Homo sapiens: one gene and its partner. The protein of the gene in region 1 interacts with the protein of each later gene in a pairwise test. Each region holds a gene or a part of one and is shown in the gene's direction. Other genes may lie near its edges. The genes, in order: RBP3 and NID2.

Region 1 (3,819 bases):
AGATGGCCACCAAACTGAGCGGTCTGCAGAGCCGCTACTCCAGGGTGACCTCAGAAGTGGCCCTAGCCGAGATCCTGGGGGCTGACCTGCAGATGCTCTCCGGAGACCCACACCTGAAGGCAGCCCATATCCCTGAGAATGCCAAGGACCGCATTCCTGGAATTGTGCCCATGCAGGTGAGACCCAAGAGAGACCTGGCTGAACCCAGTCCCGGGAGTGAGTTGACCCATTGTCCGCACATGCAGGGCTCTGTGCACAGTGCGTGACAATGGCTTTTAGATTTGTTCTCACGTTTAAGTTTTGACCGGTCAAGTCCTTTCCTCTTTCTCAACCTGTTCCATCCACTCTCTGTGACCCTGGGGTTGCTGAACACCTCTGTAGAACATTCATATTAGGTTGGTGCAAAAGTACTTTCAATGGCAAAACCCGCAATTACTTTTGCACCCACCTCACAGGAAGCCAGTTTGAAAGCCAACCAATACTCACAGGAAGCCAGTTCGGAAGCTCCTGGGATAGAAGGCATTTCAGCCTTGGCTGGGTGGAAGGTGAGTGTTGGCAGGGCTTCTCATTGTCAGTGCTAGGGAAGAGGCCAACACCTGTCAGAGGTGGCCAATGGACTTCACCAAGTGCCCCACGCTGGCCGAGAGCTCCACCTAGGCAGCACTCACACCTCCACACTGTTCTACCTGTGGTCTGCTGCATCGTCACAATTGGGCAGGGCAGCATTTGCCATGGGATCCCTTGCAAGGAGGGTCTGAGACCAGGGCTTGGGTGCAGGCGCTTTGTCTGGGAGGCGGTTACTGAAGCAGGCATGAAGGAGGGAGCAGGGAGAGTGGGTTGGGAAGCTGACAGGCAGGTGCCTCAAAGCTGTTCTGCTGAAGCCAGGACCCTGACGAGTGCAGGGATGCTCCCAGGCATAGCCCTCTGCAGGCAGGGCCCAGTGGTTCCTGTCCCGCATTGGCCAAGAGTTGCCCTGAGACATGCCTCAGGGTGGGGCAGGCTCCCTCTTCTTGGAGAAGGCCTGAGCTACGGGTGGAAAGGCAGGGCTGTGCTATAGGAGAGCCTGTCAGTGGGGTCGGGTGCAGCTGAAAGCAGAGGGGGCTGAGAGTGCCAAAAGCATCTACTACAGAATTGTTATCCCCATTTTCCGCAACTGAGGCCCGGAGAGGAGCAGAGGGGAGTGGCCTGAGGCCAGAGAGCTGTGACTGAGGGCAGGGCAGGGCCTGGAGGGCAGTGTCTCTGTCAATGAAGTCTCCTTGCCTGTCAATCTCACCAAGACCTGCCTCCCTCCAGCAGCCTTAGAGAGGGAGGAGGAGGTGCATCCACGTGCGAGTAGCCTGTGCTAGGCTTGCAGAATCCCCAGTTTCCAAATCAACATCTCCTTCCTTTCCAGTATAGCCAAGGTTCACGATTTGGAGTCAGATGTGGATTCAGATTCTGGCTCCACCACTTACTGACTGTGTGACCTGAGACTAGTTACTTAATCTCTCTGTGCTTCAGTTTTTCCATGGAAAAGATGGGGATCGTGTTATCTCCTGTACAGGTGGCTGTGAGGATGATGATAAGCTCTACAAAGTGCTTAGTACCGGGCCAGGTGCCTGGTAAAGGTAACTAACATCTTCCAATCCTGCCCCAGTGGAGCAGCTTAGAGACATAGGAAGTATCTGGTAAGGTTGGAGAGGTCAGAGGGGAGTCCATTCCTGGGCCTTCTAGCTCAGGACACCAGGGCATGTGGGTGGCAGACAGGAGCATCCTCTGCAAGGAGGCTGCCCATAGATCACACATGTCCCAGTGGCATGTCACATCCAGACATGCCACTGGGAAAGTCCCTGGTGTCTACTAATTCCTTCAGAAATGTTAGTTCCTGTCCCATGCCCTTAATATTTCCCATGGCGCCTGCTTTCCTGGGCTCTAAAACTGGCTGCTCCTCCTGACACTGAGTAGGACCTCCAACTCTTACAGATCCCTTCCCCTGAAGTATTTGAAGAGCTGATCAAGTTTTCCTTCCACACTAACGTGCTTGAGGACAACATTGGCTACTTGAGGTTTGACATGTTTGGGGACGGTGAGCTGCTCACCCAGGTCTCCAGGCTGCTGGTGGAGCACATCTGGAAGAAGATCATGCACACGGATGCCATGATCATCGACATGAGGTCAGTGGCCAGGGGTCAGTGCTTCCTAGCCAGGACGCAGGGCTGCCAGGGGACAGTCAAAGCTATGGGCCACAGCAGGGAAGAAAAGGAACCCTGTGACACAGCAGAGGACCTGAGGGGGGCCAGGCCTCCTGCCTATCAGGGCTTCGGCCAGCTAGCCCAGCAGATCTGCTGTCATTGCAGGTGGGGCCCAGCACTGGTAGTTTTTGCAAGCTTCTCCAGTGATTCCAATGTGCATTCCAGATTGAGAATTACCCCAGATTTGCCTGGTCATAGGATTCAGTGGGGAGGAGAGGAAGGAGATGTTAAAAACACTGATTCCTGGGCCCCACTCCCCTCTTACTGACTCAGAAGCTCCAGGGGACAGGCCCGATAATCTCTATTTGACAGGCATCCCAGGTGATTCTGATGGTCAGTGGTGTGTGAGACAGCCAGGCCCCCCACCTGGGAGTGTGCCTCACATCATACAAAATCAACACATGACAACCCTGGTCATATGAATCGTACAGGCAGAATTTGGAAATCACACAGGGAAAATTTAGAAGTTAATCACTATTGTTAACAAAAGAATTCTTTGCATCACCAAATGATTGTCAGAAGGATGTCTTCAGCTAGCCACCTCCCCTCTGTTTCTGTAAAAATGTGCCTCATATGTCATGAGTTTACCTCATGGACCAGGGGTAGGAGGTGGATGAGTACCCTCAGGCAGTGGCCAGACCTGGCATCCCATGACTCTGGGGTCCATTGGTGGACATGCCCCAGCACCCTCCCTGGGCAGGTTGCCTTCCTCAGACGGGACCCTTCCATGCTCCCGTGTTGTCTGAAAGAAGTGGCAGGGGGTGGCAGACCAGAAGCATTCACCCAGCTCCAGTTCTCTAGCCCTCAGCGCTCACTCACATGGTTCTTAGTGGTCACTAGGTGGCTCTCGGTCCTGCACCCACTGCTTCTCCTCCCTGGGAGATAAAACATTAGCCCTGGCTCCAGTTCTGTGTGTGTTCACAGCCTGAGCTTGAGGCTCCTGGGGTCTCTCTGATCATTTTATTCTTTAGAAGTTCTGTTGAGCACCCAAATGACACTCATGCTAAGTCTCTTTCTTCTGAATATGCCATTTACACTTTTTAAAGAGGAGATGGCCCCAGCCTGCAAGTGCACTTTGCTTAAAGACCCTCCCACCCCTGAGGTTTGTTTGGAGGTTCAGACACTGACATCACAGGCCCCGAACCCAGCCAGGCCATCCCAGGCCATCAGTTGGACGAGGCTCCTTAACACATCACTAGCCCCAGTGGGGAGACAGGGGCCCAACGAGGTCACACAGTGGGACAAATCTAAATGGCCTGGGAGAAATACAGGCTCCCCTGCTCCCAATGCAGCTCCACAAGCCTGAATATTTCAATACACTAAGTGCCCTGTTAAGACACCTGAACTAAGACAGCTGGTAGGTGTCATAAGATTGTCACAGAATGCAACGGGAAAAACAATGTTTCCCAAAATGTGTTCCACTCATAGGAAGATATGGGTGCAGGGGAGCAGTCCATGGTCAATAAATGGGGGAAATTTATCAACAAGTTTCTGACTGCAGGACTTGTCAGGGCCTTTAATATATTAACATGTATTAATTACATAGCAGAAGGAAAGGATAACATATTTGATCACTAAGTTTCTTGTT
Region 2 (3,819 bases), on another chromosome or scaffold:
AAATAAAGTGCTAAATGCCCAGAGTTCACAGCAAAAAGTCAGACTCTCCTCTTCACAGCTCTGTTTACTACTCTCTTCCCCCCTTCCCCATCCCCTTCAATTCTTCACAGTCTCTACAACCTCCTTATCTTATGGAATTTCTCTAAATTTAGAACCAGGATTCTCTCCTATCTCACATTTATTATGGCAGATCAATGCCAGGAGCTTTGAAAGCTTAGCTTTTTGAAATGGGGTTTTTTCTCCTTCCTCTAGTACTTTTCTTTCCCTAGTTGATTTTTCTTTATTCTGACTAATGTATAACTCTGAAGTTATTGAGTCCACATTAGTTGATGATGTCGACTATCTTATGGATAGACATGAGGCAGAACAGCCTTTGTTTATATTTGGCAGTAGTTGTGGCTTCCTAGTATTGAGAAGCTCTAAAAACATTTCTTGCTTTTTGTTTTTGGAAAAGTCAAGCTTTGCTGATGAACAATCAACAACTGGAACAATAACAAATAAACTAGGCACCTGTTACTTTGTGAATTGAATGAATGAAAAAAGCAAAGCAAGATGTTGTTTTTTCTGGGTTAGAGAACTAAAAGAACTGCTGATTGTATTTTATTTTCTCTTGAAAAGTGTGTTACATCTATATTTCTTTATCCTATTAGCAAAACCTCAAAACCTTACTTTGAAATTAAACATTGAAAGGAAAAATTAACATTAGAAAAGAGCTAGAACAACTGTGGGAGTAGACTTAGAACAAAGGGAAGAGCCCATTCCTTCCTTGCTGTTTCCTTCAGTGAAATGTGATGTTCTTCTCTGTGCCCGAGTTTGTCTGTCTAGCAGAATGGAAAGGTAATGATACTTACCAGTAAATAATATTTCTAAGAGTCACATTATTTGTGAAGTAAGTTGTGTTTTAAAAATACCTTCCCAGTTCCTTACTAAATTGTAAAAGTAGTGTGATTTAGTGAGAGAGAGACAGTTTCAGAAGCCTAAACATAACAGCTTTTTGAGAATCAAGCACTGTTCACAGATCTTTAGGAGGAGCGGTCGCTGAATGAAGGTAAAGGCAAAAATCTCATCTTGTTGAAAATATGAGGGTAAACAGAATGTTAAGGAGTGATCCTATAAGGACCTGGGTGTTGAATTGGCAGCTGATTCAGGCTCCTGGTCCCTCTCTGGTCTGTGTTGGCTCCTGCAGTGTTTATAACATTCACCAGCTGCCTCTGTGACACCTCCCAACCTCCACCCTGAGATCCTGGACACACACCCCGGCTCTTGGCCTCTACCACCTTCTCCAGTGACTCTCCTACCATTTCAACCATGGCTGTTTCCCAGTCCTACACCGTGAGACTCTCCTGGGCAAAGCCTGTCTTTTGCTCCTTCACATCCTCAGCATCAAGCATAACGTCTGGTGCTTAAGTAGACACTTGGCTGTTTGAATTAGTGTATGAATGAATAAATGAATGGTGTTTACAAACATATAAACAACTAACCAAGCATAATGAGGTGAATGCTCACTAGAGATGCCCATAAAGGTGTTACAGAGGTTCAGAGAACAGAAATTATTCTATAGGGAATCACAAACACCTCTGAGTGGCAGCATTTGAAGGTTAGGAGGCTTTCTAGGCACAGGGAACCACGAACAAAGTGTAGAAGCATCCAAGGACATGGTACAAATGGGGACTATTAAATAGTCTGACAAAGATGCAGTGGAACTGAGCCTGGGAGGGACGTATGCAGCCAGGTTACAACTCACCTTGAATGCCATGTTGAGGAGGGGTTAGGGTGTCCTAGGGTGTGGGCTCTAGAGCTGGCTGGCCCACCACCACATACTTGCCACCTGACCTGAGGAAGACCTGTTAGCCCCTGTGTCTTTTTCTCATCTGTGAAATGAGGATAACCCTGATGCTCGTATGAAAGGGTAGATGGAAGAGGAAAGAGAGTGATGCTGTGAGACAGTAAGGAGGCCTTTTGACCAACTAGTGCCTAACACAGTGCCTGCCCATAGTGGTCATTTAATAAATGGATGAATGAATGAATGAATGAATGATGCAAATGAGAGATGCTGAGTGCCTAGGGTTATAAACTAGGGCAGTGACTGCAGGATGGACAAGTTAATTTTGCTGATTGCTCTTAGCTCTGAAAGAGTTTACATGAGAGAAGTTTGAAACCTTACAAAGTATATATTTTTTAACCTATGTTTTACCAATGCGTATTTCAACTATTAATCTAAATTGACAAATGGTATTTGCAATAATAAATAATATTGCTTATGAAATTATATTGTTAACTTGAAGAGGAAATTTTAAAGAAGGTTATGTTTAAAAACAATTTGGAGGAATCCTGAAAAAGGGGAAGTTCTTTGCACGTTATGATGCTTTGCTTGCATTCTGTTTCTTTCTTCTTTTATTTGTTTTTTACAGGATGTTTCTCTCTCTCTCTCTCTCTTTTTTTTTTTTTTTCCTCACAGCTGAACACTTTCCAGGCAGTTTTGGCATCTGATGGGTCTGATAGCTACGCCCTCTTTCTTTATCCTGCCAACGGCCTGCAGTTCCTTGGAACCCGCCCCAAAGAGTCTTACAATGTCCAGCTTCAGCTTCCAGCTCGGGTGGGCTTCTGCCGAGGGGAGGCTGATGATCTGAAGTCAGAAGGACCATATTTCAGCTTGACTAGCACTGAACAGTCTGTGAAAAATCTCTATCAGTAAGTAACATTGAGCTGAAGCCCTTTCCTATTTGAATATAAGGACTTTTAGGAAGTACCTGAACACAAGTGACCATAAGACCATTACATAATATATTGGTGGCTTCTAAGTAAGGCATCAAGTCAAAACCAAGGAACTAGATTCAACCCTGGAAGGATCAAGTTCACCAAAACATAAAAGGTCCTTTATTTTTCCTGCTCTATTGGGTATAGATACTGGAAACAGAACAGTATGTGTGTGTATTTGTAGAGCCACTGAGGCTTGCTATGAAAAACATTGCTCTTGGAACCACATAAAAATATCCAGTCATAAACTGCCCAGTTTGAGGTTTTCCAGATTAATCATTTCACAGGAGGAAACATTGTGATTTAGTCTTTTGGACAGATACTGTTAAACATTAAATTGAGCAATGTAATTTGCAGGAAAAATAACTAAGATTTATAGGTTTCCAGAAGTCTGAGGATGTCTCTCTGGCTTCATTACCTAAAATGAATTGAACCCATTCCTTAGACTCATCAGTGTCTGCCCATAATGGGCATTTAATAAATAGATGGGTGAATGAATGAATGATCCAGAGGGCTTACTTAGCTAGTGCAATAATAAGCTCTTCTGCATTTTGCCAGTACAGATAGTGCCAGTAGGATATTTATTGACTTCAGGGTTTTTTGGGGGGTGTGTGAGGGGAGGTAGGGGTGCCCTCGCTTTTATTCGTTTCCTGAATATAGAAGCCAGATAGAATACATTGGTTACTTCCTGGCCTCCTTTAACTGCTTCTTGACTTCATTAAATCAATCCTGGGTAGGTATAGAAACACCTTACACTTTTAGCATGCCATCCACTCTGCTCGGCTACCAGAAAGAGACCACTATAGCCAGGTTTGCTTACTCAGAGCTGACATTTATTGAAAACTTACTACTTGCCAAGCATCATGCTAAACACTTTCCAGATGTTATCTTAATTAAAACTCACAAGAATTGTAGGTTAGTACTACTATTTTCCCAGTTTTACAGAGGAGCTTAGGGAAGTTAAGTAAATTGCCTATGATCTCAAAGTTAAGTGGCAAAGCCAAAATCCAAGCTCAAGTCTGGAGTGCTGAACTACTTATTTTATCTTATGCTGAGTCCTTG

The links.
Region 2: the proteins of RBP3 (region 1) and NID2 interact in a two-hybrid assay, tested with the Homo sapiens proteins (one large-scale study listed by BioGRID).

The regions. Positions count from the first base shown.
Region 1 is NC_000010.11:47,351,363-47,355,181, forward strand, and holds part of RBP3 (retinol-binding protein 3 precursor), read left to right. Parts: coding exon 1-176; intron 177-1,962; coding exon 1,963-2,153; intron 2,154-3,819.
Region 2 is NC_000014.9:52,058,996-52,062,814, reverse strand, and holds part of NID2 (nidogen-2 precursor), read left to right. Parts: intron 1-2,458; coding exon 2,459-2,691; intron 2,692-3,819.